Linked DNA regions of Homo sapiens: region 2 is linked to region 1. The links come from fine-mapping of genetic effects on gene expression. A gene starts in region 1. The other region holds a variant in brackets. All regions are shown on one strand. Distances are between the middles of the regions. Region 1 holds the start of PCMTD1-DT (PCMTD1 divergent transcript). Region 2 overlaps PCMTD1-DT (PCMTD1 divergent transcript).

Region 1 (8,469 bases):
ATTTTCAGGTTAAACTGGAAAATATGCTATGTCTTCCCATCAGCAATACCTCTCATTAATTTTTGAGAATACACATACACATAGTGTTTGATTCACAATCCTTCCCCACTTCAACAGCTGAAAAAATCTTACCATATTCTAAAAACGTCTTTAGGGGGCTGAAATATTTCTGTGTCACCTAATTATAAAACCCACTCACATCCAACATCCAATGTTACGTTGACCGAGAGATAATCAATGGCAGATACGCCATTTAGGTATGAATCCAATTATCATCCTTAACAATTGCCAGTAAAATGTCAAAGCTTTTCCTGTATTTTTGGTTTCTTCTCAAATACAGATTACAACTGACCATACTTTATTAATGTTAGTATTTGTCCCATTTCTTTTTTTTTTTTTTTTTTTTTTTTTGAGACAGAGTCTCACTCTTTTGACCAGGCTGGAGTGAAGTGGAGCGATCTTGGCTCACTGCAACCTCTGACTCGCAGGTTCAAGCGACTCTCCTGCCTCAGCCTCCCGAGTAGCTGGGATTACAGATGCCCACCACCAAGCTCGGCTAATTTTTGTATTTTTAGTAGAGACGGGGTTTTGCCATGTTGGCCAGGCTGGACTCGAACTCCTGACCTCAGGCGATCCACCTGCCTCAGCCTCCCAAAGTGCTAGGATTACAGGCGTGAGCCACTGCCCCCGGCCGCCACATTTCTTCCAACTATGTAGTTGCCACATCTAGTGGAAAATGAAAAAAGATTAATAAACCATATTATGACACCCTATTGTCTGTCATTATGCATTTTAAGTGACTACCAAATATTTTAAAATACCAATAATTACATAAGTAAATTTTAATCCTTTTAGACTTTTTTAGGGCCCTCTTGGTATTCTTTCCAGCACACTAATTTACAAAAAAGTTCAACTACGTTCATAAAAATGTTTACTGATATGAGACTATCCTTCCGAGTTTGTAAGCAATACGCAGCTGTGAGAGCTACAATTTACAATAACATCCCAATTTACCATGGCACCCAGCAGTGTCTAAAGTAACACAAATCCCCATCTTCTTGGTTAACAGCATAAGATCAAGGAGTTTAAAATTTTAGTAATATGCCACCAGAAACCTCATCTAAAAAAATACCATTATAGTTTCACACTATATTCTCTAGACTATTTTAAATGCATGTGATTACATTCATGTAGTTATTCTGTAAGGAACATTTCAAAGAAAGCAGAAAAAACCGTAAGGGCAACAATTTTTCGTTCATAGGAGGTAAAACAAGAGCAGAAAACACAGGTTCTTGGATTAAGCACTCCTGAATATAAACACGCACTATTACAAAAAAAAAAAAAAAGCAATGGGATCTTGAGCAGTTCTTTTACTCAAAGCCTCTATTTATTACTCTATAGAATGAGAAGAATGTCATTTATGTTGTTATGAGAAATATATGAGCATATTATTACCAAAAATAACTAAAATGTCATGGATTTTTTTATTCCTTTCGAGCACAGTTTCCAAATCATAAAATACTACACAATTTGGCTTAAAATTTCAGGCTATGCATGTTTAGAACCAGACGTTGTTCGTGATTATCTTCCTCAGTTGTTCTTTCCCTGGAAGCTAGCACCAAGATGAACACAGTACATTTTTAATAAATACAAGCTAGTGATTAAATCAACAAAGCCTCCAGCTCTTCTGCACACAGAAATACAGTATGCAATGGGAATTTCCTAGCTTTCTGTCTTACTTAATAGTAGGCAGTGTAGTATCACCCCTCCACTTCCAGTTTACTCCCTATAGCTTACTTACCAAAATATTTAATCCCTGTTGCTTTTTTTTTCTTGTCTCAGGCTAGGGCCACTAGCTTTCTATCTTTCCTACCTTACCTTTCCTTCACATATTAGCTACTTCATGTTAAAGAAATTACAAGTGTTCAACTGACCATATGGAATTAAAATTTACTTAGAAAAAAATGAAATAAAAAAAACCAAAAAGTAAACTAATTCAGCAACTTTATGTTTTATGGAGTCATCTAGCCTCATGTAAACTACCATTAAGCAATACGTAAACATATTAATCTGCTTAATACGAAAGTAATGTCGTCTGGCCGCAGACATTCTGAAAGTTTTGCCACATTGTTTCAAAATATTGGCTTGTAGCCCTTTTCAAAGCTACTGATTATTGAAAACTTGGCGACCATGTTTAACAATGAAGAAAAGGCTTCCCCAAGCCTACGTAGATTGGATTCTCTAATACATAGTAATAATGTTTTTTAAAATAATGAGGTGTGTAATAAAATGGAGGAATATCCATGATGCATTGTTGGCTAATAAAACGATATACTGTACTATATATGATCCCAATCTTGTTTCTAAAGCACACTCATTAAATGCACAGAAAAAAAAAATCCTGAATAACTACCCACCACACTTGGAGACTGGCTACCCTGGGTAGTAAGAAGGAGAAATATGGGGGGAAGGGCGCGAGAGAGGGCAGGTTTCCTCATTGTTTGGCTGCTTCATGTTTTTCTCAAGGAGCAAGCAGTACTTTTGTAATTAAAAAAATAAATAGGGGAAAAACACTGCTAAAAGCATACTTTTTTCCTCCGTAGCAAATTCTTCTGATTTGTAATGTTAAAAATATATCTCTGGTTTCTCGATTCTAAAAAGAGGACACACGAAAACAAAATTATAGAAGTTCCAAAAAATCTTGGATTTGCAAAATTACTCCCTCGGGTTCTGCCCGTGGGTCCTCCCCATGCCGGTGTCTGAAATTCCCCAAGCAAAACGCGGGCACTGCACTTCCCCGGAACGGTAGTAGACGCTCAAAAACACAAAAAGAGGCCTTGGCGCCTGCTATAACCTCTCAGTCCCCTCCCAGCCCCCGAGACTTCCCCGAGTCTACGTAGACTGGATTCTCTGCCTCCAAAACCAAAACAGAAGTCACTGGGCGGATCCAAAACGGCCCTAAGGGGCCCGCGGGCATCTCAAGACGCCAGCCTCGGGACTCTGGTCCCCAAGCCCAGGTCAGAGCCGAGGACGAGCCGAGGACGGGCCGAGGACGCGGCGCCCCGGCCTCCCTCGGGCCCCCGACCTCCCCGGCCCCAGGGACCCCGGCTCCCGACCTCCAGGCTTCGCTGGGCCCCTTTCGACTCCCCGACCTCCCAAGTCCTCCGCCCCCGGCCCGTCCTTCCCCCAACCTGCCCCGCAGCGCCTCAGTTTCCTGGCCCCCGACCTGCCCGCCCTTAAGTCCCCCTGCCCCCGACTCTTCGGCTGCCGTCCCCCTGGCCCTCTGGCCTCCAAGCGCATCCCAGTCGCCCGCCCGGCCCTAGCACGCGGGACTCGCACACCCCACGACCCCGAGCCCCCACTGGCGGCGGCGTTACCTGTGGCGCGGGCAGCGGCGCGCAGGCCAGGCGCTAGGACTCGGCGGGGTCCGCAGCAGCCAGACGCCGCTACCACCACAATAACAACACGGACGCCACCGCCGAGTGGAGAGGCGGGGCCCGGACCCGCGACTGGAGCAGCCAGAGCCTCCCGGACTCCGGAGCCGCCGGGGTCCGGGCATGCGCAGAGAACCACGGGCACAGGGGCAGCTCCCCGCGGACGCCAAAGTCAACAAGGCCGGGAGACGCCCCCATCTGGCCCCGCCCCCCTCAGGGCTCGCTCCGCCCCCAAGCCCAAACAACGCGAGGCCTTGACAGGCCAGAAGACGATGGCGGTAGGGGAGATCACGCGAGAGCATGGCCTCCACCTCTCCTCCCCACCGCCATCTCCACGTTCTCGCACCGGCGCTGGGGTGCAGGCTTTCAGTGGTCTCAGGGCTACGGCTTGTCGGTGCCTCGCCGCACAGTCCCCTTTGCATTGAAGGACACGGTCTTACGGTGTAGGAGCATTTTTGAGGTGCATTCCTGGATTTGGAGGCGAACCCCCAATGGTTACCTCCACAGAGGCTTTGCGAAGGGCGCTCACTGACTTAGGTGAAGAGCGAAGGCTCAAGACTGTGCCGCTTTATAGTGGCCCCTTGACGTCCAGAAGTTCCCCCCAGCGCCGGTCATAAGCACTCCCGCCGCCTGGGCCCCGCCCTGCCTGCCAGGCGCCCTCCAGCCTCAGCTCCCGGACGCCCGGCGTGGCCGCTTTCTCGCGTCTTGCTGACCCGGGCCGGGGGCGTGTGCTCCTCCTGCAGCGGACGGAAGATGCTGGGCCACGCAAGTTTCCCTGGGCTTGGTTAACCACCCCAAAGCCCATTTCCAGAAGGAAAGGGTGTTGAGGAGGAGGGATAGAAAGTCGAGAAGAGGGCCGGGTGAGTGGCTCACGCCTGTCATCCCAGCACTTTGGGAGGCCGAGACAGGCGGATCACCTGAGGTCAGGACTTAGAGACCAGCCTGGCCTACATGGTGAAACCCCGTCTCTACTAAAAATACAAAAATTAGCCGGGTGTGGTGCCGTGCGCCTGTAGTCCCAGCAACTCGGGAGGCTGAGGTAGGAGAATCGCTTGAACCCGGGAGTCGGAGGTTGCAGTGCTGAGATGGCACCTGGCCTGGGCGGCAAGAGCGAAACTCCATCTCAAAAAAAAAAAGAAGAGGAAATGAGGCATAGGGGCAGGCGAGCCGGGAAAATATTGCTACTAAGGATCCTAAGCAGTGAACATGCTGTTAATACTTGTAAGACTCCTAGCAAACTGCATTTAATTTTTTAAATTAGTTTTAGTGTACATAAAGGCATGTCTTTTCCAAATACTGTACTTTTTGAAGTGTTCTTTGTTGTTCATTAATCTTTGTGCGTTTCCCTTCAGTCTCTAATAGTAGGTTGTAGCATGATTTGCTTCCATCGTGTGAATTCTGTTCGGTTTTGATTTTCAAGTATGAGAGTGAGCGTAAGCTACCCTTATAGGTTACCTAAGGTAAGTTAGAATTAGAACGTCTTTATGCTAGGGTTACTACTCCCCACCATAACCAACCATCTGCAAAAGCGTTCAGAAAGAACATGCTAGCAAGGTCAAAAGCTTCAAATCACGAAATAAGAACTTGAAAACGAGCAAAATTGCTGCTGAGGCGCTCTGCCATTTAACTCAAAGGCTTCACTTTATTTAGGTTTAAAGTATGAGTGCATATTCAGTGGACATTGAGCTCCGAACTGTTCAAAATCTCTATTCATCTGCATTCTGGAGTAGAGCTGCGGGTCACATTATTAGCTCCATCTTTGGATTTCTGCCTGGACCCAGGGCACTCCTAACCGTTGTGGGATCATATAACAATCTTACAGGATGAATTTTCTGTTAGTCCAAGCAGAAATTTTGGCACATGAAAACTATCTTACCATAAACAAACAAAAAAAGTACAAATGGTAATCTAAGGAAAATAGCTAAAATCATTAAACAACTCTTACAGCCGTTTCCCCTGTTTTCTCTCCATTTTTTAAAAGCATATTTTCCTTTACTTTCTTCCTTCTGCTATGGGAATTTTTCAGGGTTCTAGACCTTTTTTCTCTTCTGCGGCTGGAAAGTTAAACACAGGTCATTTTTTAAATAAGACTGCTAGTAAATACCTTCTTAATAAACAACACCAAATGCTAGTCTTGTGGGTGAGTAGTTGAACAGCAAGTAAAGCACTCTATCACCTGTAATTTTCCTGTGGTAGGCACACCCCATCTCTACCTTCACGTAATTTCTGATTATGCCTCCATACCTTACACATATAATTCATTTGTGGGTGGGGGCGACAGAGTCTTTTGCTCTTTTGCCCAGGCTGGAGTGCAGTGGCAACCTCTGCTCACTGCAACCTCCACCTCCCGGCTTCAAGCAGTTCTGCCTCAGCCTCCCAAGTAGCTAGGATCACAGGAGCGCACCACCACCCCCTGCTAATTTTTGTATTTTTAGTAGAGATGGGGTTTCCCCTGTTGGCTAGGCTGGCCTCAAACTCCGATCTCAAGTGATCCACCCGCCTCGGCCTCCCAAAGTGTTGGGATTACAGGCATGAGCCACCACGTCTGGCTATAATTCACTTCTTGTGTGTGACTTCCTACTAATTTGTAATCATGAAAGTTGGGCACATACCCAGTATGCTCACTATTTCTCTGCAGGGCCTGATACAGTGGCTGCTACAACACTGATACTCTGCATTTGTTGAATGAGTAATTTAAATTTTAAATTATCATCTAGAATCATTTAGAGATTTATTTAGACTTTGATAAATTTAGATAACCCACACACAGTTTATTCCTAGAGTTCTTGATACATTGTTACAGTAAGTTTGGTCCTGGCAACAGCAATAACACTTACTGTAATAACTTAATTCTTCATACGAGGTTGCTTCACTTTTATTATTAAGCAGAAAATACCCAAAGTAAAATTGAGCTATTTGGGACTCCTTTCAGAATACTGTGTAGGCTGAAGCATTGTTGTATCAGAAGTGCTCTGTTATTTGAATGCATAAGGTATTCAACAAACAAATGCTTATTAAATTAAATGGTATTCAGCATACAGCTACTGTCACCGTGCTAGGAGTTCACATTTTTCATATGCGTGGCAGTTAGCACTGGTGCATGTTTCCTTCAGCCTCAGAAATGGAGGTGTCTGCGTGTTGCCCAGATCTACCTTGAAAACTCTAGTTGCTTCCTAACACCTAGGTTGTATAGTGGGACTTGATTATGTTTTATAAAGCCAAGTCTGGTCTGTGAGGACTGAAAGGATTTCCTCATCTTAACTCTAATTTGGCCTGCAATGTCTGGGGAAAACCCAAAACTAAAATGTAACTAAATGTGGAACTGTTTTTTTCTGCAGTTTGATTTCCTTGTACCATTTTCAGTACAGTTAAATTCATCACCTCCCCTACCTCACCATCCCCCTCCCCCTGCAAAAAAAAAAAAAGCAAAAACAGAAGTATTTTCTCTCTTAAAGAGAATTGTCATTGGCCAGGCACAGTGGCTCACGACTATAGTCCCAGCCCTATAGGAAGCAGAGGTGGGAGAATCATTTGAGCTCAGAAGTTGCAAGATTTCAAGATCAGCCTGAGCAACATAGTGAGACCTCATCTCTGCAAAAAATTTAAAAATTACCTGAGTGTGGTGATGCATGCCTGTAGTCCCAGCTATTCCAGAAGCTGAGATGGGAGGATTACTTGAGCCCAGGAGTTAGTTTCTAATTGGATGTAGTCTGCACAGGCAGATTTCATTTTCAGTATTAAAAAGGTCAGTAATTTCTGAAATATTCACTTGACAATTAATAGGATTAAATGACTTTGGGAAAGCATAATTTTATTTTAAATTGCACATATAATCCCTCAATTACATAGATTTTAATGCTAGGATAATCTTCCAATAAAAGGAAATATAAGTTATCAAAAAATGAATTTCTTTTAGAAAAATAAGCATTTATAATTTATTGTCTACAGTAAACAAAAAGTGACTTTAACTCACAAGTTAAAATTACTCTTATATGGTGCTTAATCTATATAAATATCTTTCCTTTATTAAAAATTCTGCTTCTTAAAAAACAGAATCATGGAGTGGAGAAAAAGGAAAACTTCTGCTTGTAAACTTAAGTGCATCAAAACTGTGGATAAACATCTTTTTAATGTATATGTAAAATTTAATATTTTTTAAAGAATCTATTAAAGTTCAATAAACATTTTCTGACACTATGATAGATGCTGAGGATATTGCAATAATATATGATATAGCTTCTGTCTTAATAAACTTACATTCAAATAATAGAAGGAGGAAAGTGACCCTTGACATAATAGTAAGGGTACAAATAAAATACTCTTGCTCCATAGTAGTGTTCCATGGCAGAAGTCAAATTTGAATCAAGCTTTGAAATTTGAATAGAATTTTTGAATTATGGAGATAAAGAGAATAGCTATTTTAGGAACATGGAATATAAAAGAATAACGCTTACATAGATCATTTGTTTTCAAAGAGCAGAGATTAATCTGATTTAGCTAGAACATAGAATGCAAAAAGGATAATGGGAGCTAAGCCTAGAAAGATAGACTGCAGCCAGATTTTGGTGGTCATTAGATTGGATGCAACAGCCAGCAAGGAGCCAAAACTTAAGTGTTCACTTTTATGTAAATGTAGCTGACGCAAGTACCTTGTATTAGAACTAAAAATTATGCTGTATATAACTATTACTGTAGTTAGGTGAAACCATTTCAGAGTCTGCTTTAGTGATTCATAGTGTAAATGAAGTTACTGTGTTTATGTGTGTGTGTGTGTGCACATTATATGTATGTATGTGTGTTTTTAAGTATGACATTTGAATTCTGAAATGAAGATGAAAAAGGCTTTGGTCAGTAAACCTGTCTTTCTTGGTCAGATACTGAACCACAGTAGTAAGTCCAGGCACTGAAATGATAATTCATATGTATGGATTCTTCTTGGCTCTAGGTTGATGAACAGAGCAATTATGAAGAGTTGACTAGAACCAACTGATCTTTTTTTTTTTAATTCCACTAAATAGAATAGTTTGCTAAAAAT
Region 2 (8,469 bases), 30 kb after region 1:
GTGAGGAGAGCAGAATTTATTAAAAGAAAGCTCTCAGTGAATAAAAAGGGGGTCCTGACAGCAGGCTCCCACCTCACAGATTGAATATCAGGGCACCACACATACAAGCTGAGGAGTCCAGGCTCCTCCCTACTGCATAAGGTGCTGATCCCTGGTGGCTCCACCCCATACTCCCAGTGTGCAGGCAGGCCCCCAGTCCATTGTGGGCATGTCCAGACAAGGCCCTGGGCATGTTCCCCCTCTGCACAAAAGCATCTGATATGAACACTTGTGGGATGGATTGGAGATTCTCCAGGTAGCCTCCCTTATCTGCCTCCTGCATCTATCATTTATATAGAGGGGAAGGCAGGGAAAACAGAAATTAGGGAGGAGTAAGGAAGCAATTATGATGGATACGAGGTCTGGCATCTCATTGTCTGGATGCGGTGATCTGACGAGTTTTAGTCCCTTGCCTGAGGGTCAGTTTCCTGAAGAAGGAACACAGTTAAGACAAATATAAGTTTTAAATATTAAGATGGAGGGTCCATTTCTGTGTTATTCAAAAACCCATATATATCATTTCTATGAGACAGTTGGGCCTATTTCAAACTCATATCACAGGAAGCAAGAAACCATTGTCTGCCCTGTGGGCCCAAACAAAGTTTGTCCCAGGTTACTGAGTGTTTTTCAAGCCCATCGAATTCCCCTAAAACTAATTTACTACTCCCTAAAATAATCTACACTTTTCCATCGTCCTTTCCCCTAAGAAGAAAGGTATATAACCATCTGTATACTTTATGCGTGATGCAGCAATCACTCTGTGATTTCTCCTGCTCCCTGCACACTAATCAATGGGTATGCCATTTCTCCTATCAATCTGCCTTTGTCAGTTTATTTTCAGTGAACCTTCAGAGGTTGAAAGGAAAGTTTTCATTAGTCCCTACAGAATGAAAGAATGAATAATCGTATTTCCATTTATAGTTGGGGAAACAGAATAGAAACTTACAGGTGTTGCTCAAGGTCACCTAATTTTGGATTTAATCCCAATTCTCATTCCAAAGCCCATGATTTATTCTGTGCATTAACAGTTCATTCTTTTTTTAAAATAATTTTTTTGTGTGTGTTTATAGAGACAGTGTCTCACCATGTTGCCCAGGCTGGTCTCAAACTTCTGGGCTCAAGTGATCCTTCTGCCTCAGGCTCCCAAAGTGCTGGGATTATAGGCATGAGCCATCACACCCAGCTAGTTGTAACTTAAGCTTTAGCCACATGAAGACTACCAGAAGAGCTCCTCAGGTTGAGACAGAAATAATACAGGGTGGTCACAGGAGAAAATTCTAGGCAGCAGTTTCACATGGCTAGCCAAAGAAAACTGTTGAAATGGCTGCATGAGCTAGGGGATGAGAAAACCTGAAAACCAGGGAGTGGACCAAGCTTACTGAGACCAACTGGACCCAACATGGTGCTGGATTTGACCTAGGTTTTACCTAGGACCTCATTATATGCTCAGTAAAACATTAAATCCATTACCCACCAGTGCCATGACAGTTTTGGGAACATCTATATTTGGGGTAAAAATAGGTGGTACCGCAGTTCCAAGGAATCTTCACCTTTTTCCAGGAATCGGTGTGAATATTCCTTGGTTAAAGAAGTAGAAGCCTCAAACCCCATTGGGTGCTACTCTCTCTCGAGTACAGTTGCACTCCCTACTCCCCTTTCTTGATTACTTACTTCTTGCTTCGCAATAAATCCCCATAGCCTGCGAGGTCAAGGTTACAGTGAGCCTTGACTGTGCCACTGTACTCCAGCCTGGGCAACAGAAGGAGACACTGTCTCAATCCATCCATGCATCCATCCATCCATCCATCCATCCGGGTATTGCAAGGAGTTAAAAAAAACTCCCACACAAATTTAGGTTTTATTTTCAGATAAGCTCTTCTATCCATCCAGAATGAAAAGGTATCACAGGTTACTCACTTGAAGCTGCATCCTCCTTAGAGGAACTTTCACAGAAGCTGTGTCCCATCCTCCCTTTGCTGATTTGAAGCCCAAATTTCAACCCATGCAGAATCTTTTAGGGAAATTCTCAAGACCGTAATTATATTTTACCACTATAAAGGTGGACTGTAGTTTCTGCAGGTGACCACGTTGAAAAACATTTCTTCTTTTACTGAAAATTAAACTACTTCCTACGTATTCTTTGCAGAGAGGACCAAGAGCTGGCTCTGAGTCTCTAAGTCCCAGTAGTGTGGGGAGTGACAGCCTCCACCCTAGTGTCCTGGGCTCCACCCCCAGCAATTTGAAGTTGCAAGGTCTCAGACAGCACCCAGAGTTTTGGGGACTTCTTTTCCAAGTGTGAAAGGAGGCTCCTTTCCAATCATTATGTTTTAAATTTACTTCAGAGCTCCAAGGGACCACTGACAGAAGAGTTTTTTAATAGTCTTTTTATTTTTCACCCAGAGTAACATTTAAAAATAACAAGATATTTTATGCATCAGTTGCTTCACATCTTCTACTGGAGCAAACTTTTTGTTGGTAGTGTTTTGTTGTTGGCTGATGTTTCAAAGTTCCAAGAACTTGAGCCTCAAACCTCACAGAGAAGTGACTACAAAAATGTTCTTTCCTTATTTATCATGAGGCTAACAATAGTACCTACCTCACAGGCTCATCTAGAAGATTCCATAAGTCAACGTTGATTGTAAAGCACTCAGGTCACTGCCTGGCACATAAGGAGTGCCATTTATCAGTTTGTGAAGTGAAACCATGGTCAAGTTTTGTAGTGGCTGCTTTGCCCTGGCCAAGGGAAACTGCTGCTTTCTTTTATAGCTGTTAGTAGCATTAAATTGCAACTCTACCTTTCTTATTTAGGGGTACTAAGGGGGGAACTTCACTTTGTGACAAAAATATAACAAAATCTTAAGCATACAGAAGTGCTAGAACAAGGTGTAAAAACAAAAAGAACATCTGTATTAGTCCATTCTCACACCGCTATAAAGAACTACCTGAGACTGGATAATTTATAAAGAAAAGAGGGTTAATTGGCTCACAGTTCCATAGGCTGTACAGGAAGCATGGCTGGGGATGCTTCAAGAAGCTTACAATCATGGCAGAAAGTGAAGGGGAAGCAAAGACATCTTCACATGGCCAGCAGGAGAGAGAGAGAGAGAGCAAAGGGGGAAGCCCTACATACTTTTAAACAACCAGAGCTAGTGAGAACTCACTCACTATCACCAGAACAGCAGGGGGGTAAATTGACCCCATGATCCATTCATCTCCAACCAGATCCCTCCCCCAATATTGGGGATTACAATTCAATATGAGATTTGGGTGTGGACACAAATCCAAACCATATCATCACCTTATGCTTTTGTTCTGTTCCCATGTTGGCATTTATCTGGAGCCTGGAGTAGCAGTGCCAGATATTCCTTATGACAGTTTATCAAAGCCGGCTTTGCAGAGGTGAAGGAAGCATGGCCACATGGCAGTGAGCCAAGAGCGCAAACTGTGGGATCCAAGAGTGGCCAAGGCTTTCTTGCTACATGTAGGAAATGGTATTTTTGATACACATCTCAGATAATTCTGATAGAGGTAGCTTTGTTACAGACCACAGGCTCTTTGGCTACCCATATAATGGAAATTAACTCATGGCCAAGCAGATTTTCCAGATAAGACTTTTATTATGGGGCTTATGCTCAAGTGCAAGGGAGACAGCAACGGTGAGAAAGATCCTCTGGCTAGCTCCCAAAGAAACGCCATTAGGGATTTTTTTTTTTTTTAATTAGACAAAACATGGGAATTGATTTCAAGACTAGTGTATGCAGGCTGGGCTGGGCAAAGCATGTGAAGGGTAGGGGATGCAGGTCAGCATGTCTGGTTGTGATGGTTCTCTTGAGTAATGAACCACCTGGTGGTCTGGTGGGGGCAGCGAAGCAGTAATCAATTTTTCAGTTTTTCTTCCCAAGGAAGGACACTCGCAACCTTGTTTGATGTTTAGCTCTCCTAAGGTCAGTTTCTGGAATTCTCTAAGTAAAAGGAATGGTTGAACATTATGAGAGCACAGAAGAATGGCTATTTGCTTTGTGTGACAGAAGCCTCAGGGTTAATGGGTATACCATCCATGAAGTAGTGGTGTGGGTTTTGTGAAGAGAAGAAAAAAATAAAAAATGTATGAAGGAGAAGTCATGTCCCACTCCTGTTCATCAGTCTGAGGATTGCACTTTGAGAAACACAAGTCACCCTTATTAAATTTCAATCAAACTTATAACTTTTGAATATATATTGTAATTTTATGTATTTATTTATTTAATTTATTTATTTATTAGTGACAGAGTCTGACTTTGTCTCCCAGGCTGGAGTATAGTGGCATGATCATAGCTTACTACAGTCTCAACCTCCCGGGTTCAGGTAATCCTCTTGCCTAAGCCTCTTGCATAGCTGGGACTACAGGCATGTGCCACTACACTTGGGTAATTTTTAAATTTTTTTTAGTAGAGATGGGTCTCACTATGTTGCCTAGGCTGGTCTCGAACTCTTGACCTCAAGCTATCATCCCACCTTGGCCTCCCAAAATGGAATTACAGGCATGAGCCACCATGTCTCTCCCATATTATAATTTAATTGGACAAATTGCCTGAGCTTTTCCATTCTTTGTCATTTTAGATGAGATGGAAATAAAAGACTTAGTAACAGTTATGCTGGAATCTTACATGCAAATGCATGTTCTTTGAATAAGAGCAGGTTTCTTTATTTAGCATTTCTAATTTAATCC[C/T]TGACATTAAACCACATTAGAGTCTTTAATTCTTTTACTGTTTTATAAACTGCTGAAAAGCAATTGAGAGATTCAAGCAACTCTGGTGCATGTATTTTTAAAAACATACCATTTGTCTAGGTGTGAGCCCAGCATCTAAGCAATGAGTGTAATTTTGTACCCTGGGATTTTGTTTAGTGTGCCTGCAATACACCATGGAAGAAAGTCCAACAATGGTTTAACTAGGTTTATCAAAAATAAGGAAAAATTCAAGATGGATCCTGCTATTAAAATACGTATTCTTTTAGCCATAGCATGTATTTAGTACATGAAAGTGTGTGGGGTTTTTTTTTTTTTTGAGTTGATAAACATGAGAATATTTGCAGGTGAATATTACCCAAGGCTTAATTTGTAACTTTGTCCTTATGTAAGTATTGGAAAATGGCTCATGTCCGACAATTTTTAAAAAACAGAGCCATAAATAAATATCACATCTCGTAGAATTAATGGTTTTCCCCAAGATGAAAATTACAGGAAATAGAACTGTTGAATTCTAGGAAGTTGTCTACACCAAAGACAATGGCATTTTAAATCTTGACATTCCTTTTAAGTCACGCCTTTTTAGATAAGCATGTGGGACAGTGGGGGTTATCTACAGTGAATTTTGGTTATGTTTTTGGTATTACAAAAGCTCTGATCTTTTCAAAATGCTCAAGTTTACTATGTTATGGCCCAGCACCCTGCTAGTCTTAGTTGAAAATAAAAAGGAGCGTACCACTGAAAAATCAGTGTTTGTTTTCTTCACTATCTCTTAAAGAAAAAGAATGCCATTTAGTTAAAAAAAAAATGTCTTCTGTCTTCCAATATGACATAACAGAACCTTGAAGGATTTATATCTTGGAAGGTGAAACCAGCATTCCCTGGTTAAAATGATTAATTTACAAAACCAACAGAAGGTGAGGAGTAGAGGAGCTACAGTGTCACACTGCAAGGGAGAGAAAAGCGAAGTTGTTACCCTATTTAAAACAAACAAACAAACAGATAGAGAGAAAGAAACTCAGAAAATGCACACAGGAAGTGATTAGCGGCAATTGAACAAATGGCAGGTGTTAAATGAAACAGCATCAGGACTAAGGCTAAGTGAAATCATACAGGCTCTGAGTGATTTTATTAAGGATGATATTTATGACTTAAGTTTGGAACAGTGCATCAAGAAGATTCAAGAGTAAACTCCCTGGCCTCATCATAGGTGAGGGCATTGTCTTTTTGGCCTGAGCTATTTCCTTAGCCTCTTAAGTGACCACTCCGTTCTCAGTCTCTCCCAACTCCAGCCCAACTTTCGCATGACCACCGTGACCACCCTCTACGTTAAGGCCTTTATATCTTGACTATTACTTGGAGAAAAAATCCCAAACTTCTTAATAATAGTAACCCGGCCGGGCATGGTGGCTCACGCCTGTAATCCCAGCACTTTGGGAGGCCAAGGTGGGTGGATCACCTGAGGTCAGGAGTTTGAGACCAGCCTGGCCAACATGGTGAAACCCCATCTCTACTAAAAATACAAAAAATTAGCTGGGTGTGGTGACGGATGCCTGTAATCCCAGCTACTGAGGAGGCTGAGGCAGGAGAATTGCTTGAACCTGGGAGGTGGAGGTTATAGTGAGCCAAGATTACGCCGTTGCACTCCAGCCTGAGCAACGAGGGTGAAACTCCGTCTCAAAAAATAAATAAATAAATAAACAAAAAATAACCCATAATAGTTTGGAACTGTAAGATCTATGTAAAACTGAGCAAACCCTGGCAACTTTACAGTCTGTGGAAGACCAATAGCCCTGAAAGAGTTATAGGGATTTCAGGGCCTGTTCTGCCTTCACACTTCTGTGCAAAGGCTGTCCTTGGGTACCACCAAGTTGTTTTGATTCCTTGGAAACCTAGTTCCAAGGAAACCTAGTTCCAAGGAAACCTAGTTTCTTGATCAGTTTCCAGAAGAAAATAAATCAGTGATATGGTCACACAATGTGTCTACTTTGGGGTATACAGAGTCACTGAACACCTGTGGTTCTTTCTTGAGGAGGAGCTACACTGTGTACAGGCTAGACACAGTGGTTCTCTCCCTCCCTTTTCTCTTCTCTCTCCACATTCTTCCCTCATCTCCTTCTTTGGGGCAAAACAAAGCTTCTCTCACTGTTGCATGTGAGGCTTTTAGCAATGCTTTCAGCTGCCTGGACATGACTTTTGGGTCTCACCATCTATCTCAAGGTGCTAAAGCATTCTTCCCACTAAAGAGAATTCTCCAGTGCTGGGTATTTTCTTGTTGTCCCTCAGAATTTTCTTGCTGTCCTGCTCTGTGGTCCAGGAAGGGTGGGAACTGCATCAGCAAAAACCTCTTATCTTAGGCCTCCAGGTTGGTTCAACCAATGGGAGGCAGCAAGAGATGGCACGGGCCTGGGGGAAGGCAAGTTGTGGCAGGGACCTCCCCTGGCGCCTGCTCTGCACCAGGTCCTGAGGGTGCTCTGTGTTTCTTCTAGTTGTCCTCTCTGGGTTCTGATCTTCCTTCCTTTGCTCCTTCAGGCCTAGGGCTGGCAAAGGCTCTCTAGGGGGTGACATTATTCCTTCTTGGTATCTTTAAACTCAGACCCACCTTTGCAGATAACTTGTTAATACTCCTCAAATAAACCAGCTTGAGTATGCCAAGACCCTGACTTCCTATGAGGGATATGGTGCCTGACGTTGTGACAGTCATAGTTTCTCCACTTGCTGACACATAGCGTAGGAAGCATTTACAGTGCAGCCTCACTTTATGTTCCCATGCTCACCAAACCTCCTACCTTTCTTTGACCCTAACAGTGTTTTAACTTCATGTCTTTGTGCACTTGGGGTTTCCTCCTGCAATGGGGTGCCTTTTCCTCCTTTTCTGCCTAGCACCAATCTCTTTATCTTCAAGATCCCTCACAAACGTCACTTGTCTGAGAAGCCTTTCCTCTTACCTCCTCCCTAGAAAGACTTGAACTCTGTGCTTCCATGCAATAATTTATGGCATGTCTGTCTCCCCACAGAAATTATATCTTCATTCATTTATTCATTCCCCCCAAACGAATATCAGTTATCCTCTATGTTCCAGGCACTGTGATAAATTCATGGAAACACAGCATCAACAAAACAAAGTCCCTGCCCTCATGGAGTTTATATTCTAGTGAGGGGACAAACAATACACCTGTGAACAAGTAGATTGATGATTATCCAGTAAAGGTGAGTAGTATTGAGATAAATGAAGCAGGCCAAGAGATGACCTGTGTTAGAATGAGAAGTCTCCAGATAAGGACAGGACTGTTGCCAGGAGGTCTGAGTGAAGAGCTGGTAGTTGAGCAGAGACCTGGATGATGTGAGACTATCTGAGGGTAAATCTTTTAGCCACAGAAACAGCAGTGCAATAGTCCTGGGGGTGGGGAGGAAGTGTGCTTAGTATGTTTGAGGAAGGGCACAGAACCAGTGGGTTGGGGAAGCATGAGGATGTGAGATGAGGTCCACTCAGGGCAGGTGAGCCTAGGATGTCTTGCACCACAGGATCACAGATTTGGAGTTCCCTGGAGAGCTATGGGTAGGGGCTACCCTAACTTGACTATGCATTCTGTTAACCCCAGTGGTTTGTCTAGAGCCTGGCTGAAGGGATGACTAAATTGTAGTAGACCTCAGTTAATTCTGTAATTTTTTTCTCCTTTAGCCAATATAACTTTCCCAAGTGT

What was found. PIP is the estimated chance that this variant, and not a neighbour inherited with it, causes the effect.
Region 2: its variant is fine-mapped to the expression of PCMTD1-DT in whole blood (INTERVAL, PIP above 0.99).

The regions. Positions count from the first base shown.
Region 1 is chr8:51,895,553-51,904,021 of GRCh38, forward strand. PCMTD1-DT (PCMTD1 divergent transcript) reads left to right here and starts at 3,763. Exons shown (of 4, transcript NR_189279.1): 1 at 3,763-4,294. PCMTD1 (protein-L-isoaspartate (D-aspartate) O-methyltransferase domain containing 1) reads right to left here and starts at 3,484. Exons shown (of 6, transcript NM_052937.4): 1 at 3,378-3,484. RefSeq lists a silencer at 2,991-3,680 and enhancers at 3,721-4,010, 4,181-4,240, 4,541-4,600.
Region 2 is chr8:51,925,097-51,933,565 of GRCh38, forward strand. The region is part of intron 2 of PCMTD1-DT (PCMTD1 divergent transcript); the gene reads left to right. Among named protein-coding and RNA genes, the nearest start is that of PCMTD1-DT, 30 kb to the left of the region's middle. RefSeq lists an enhancer at 1-1,133 and a silencer at 8,056-8,185. The variant C/T (reference allele first, on the strand shown) is at 4,748.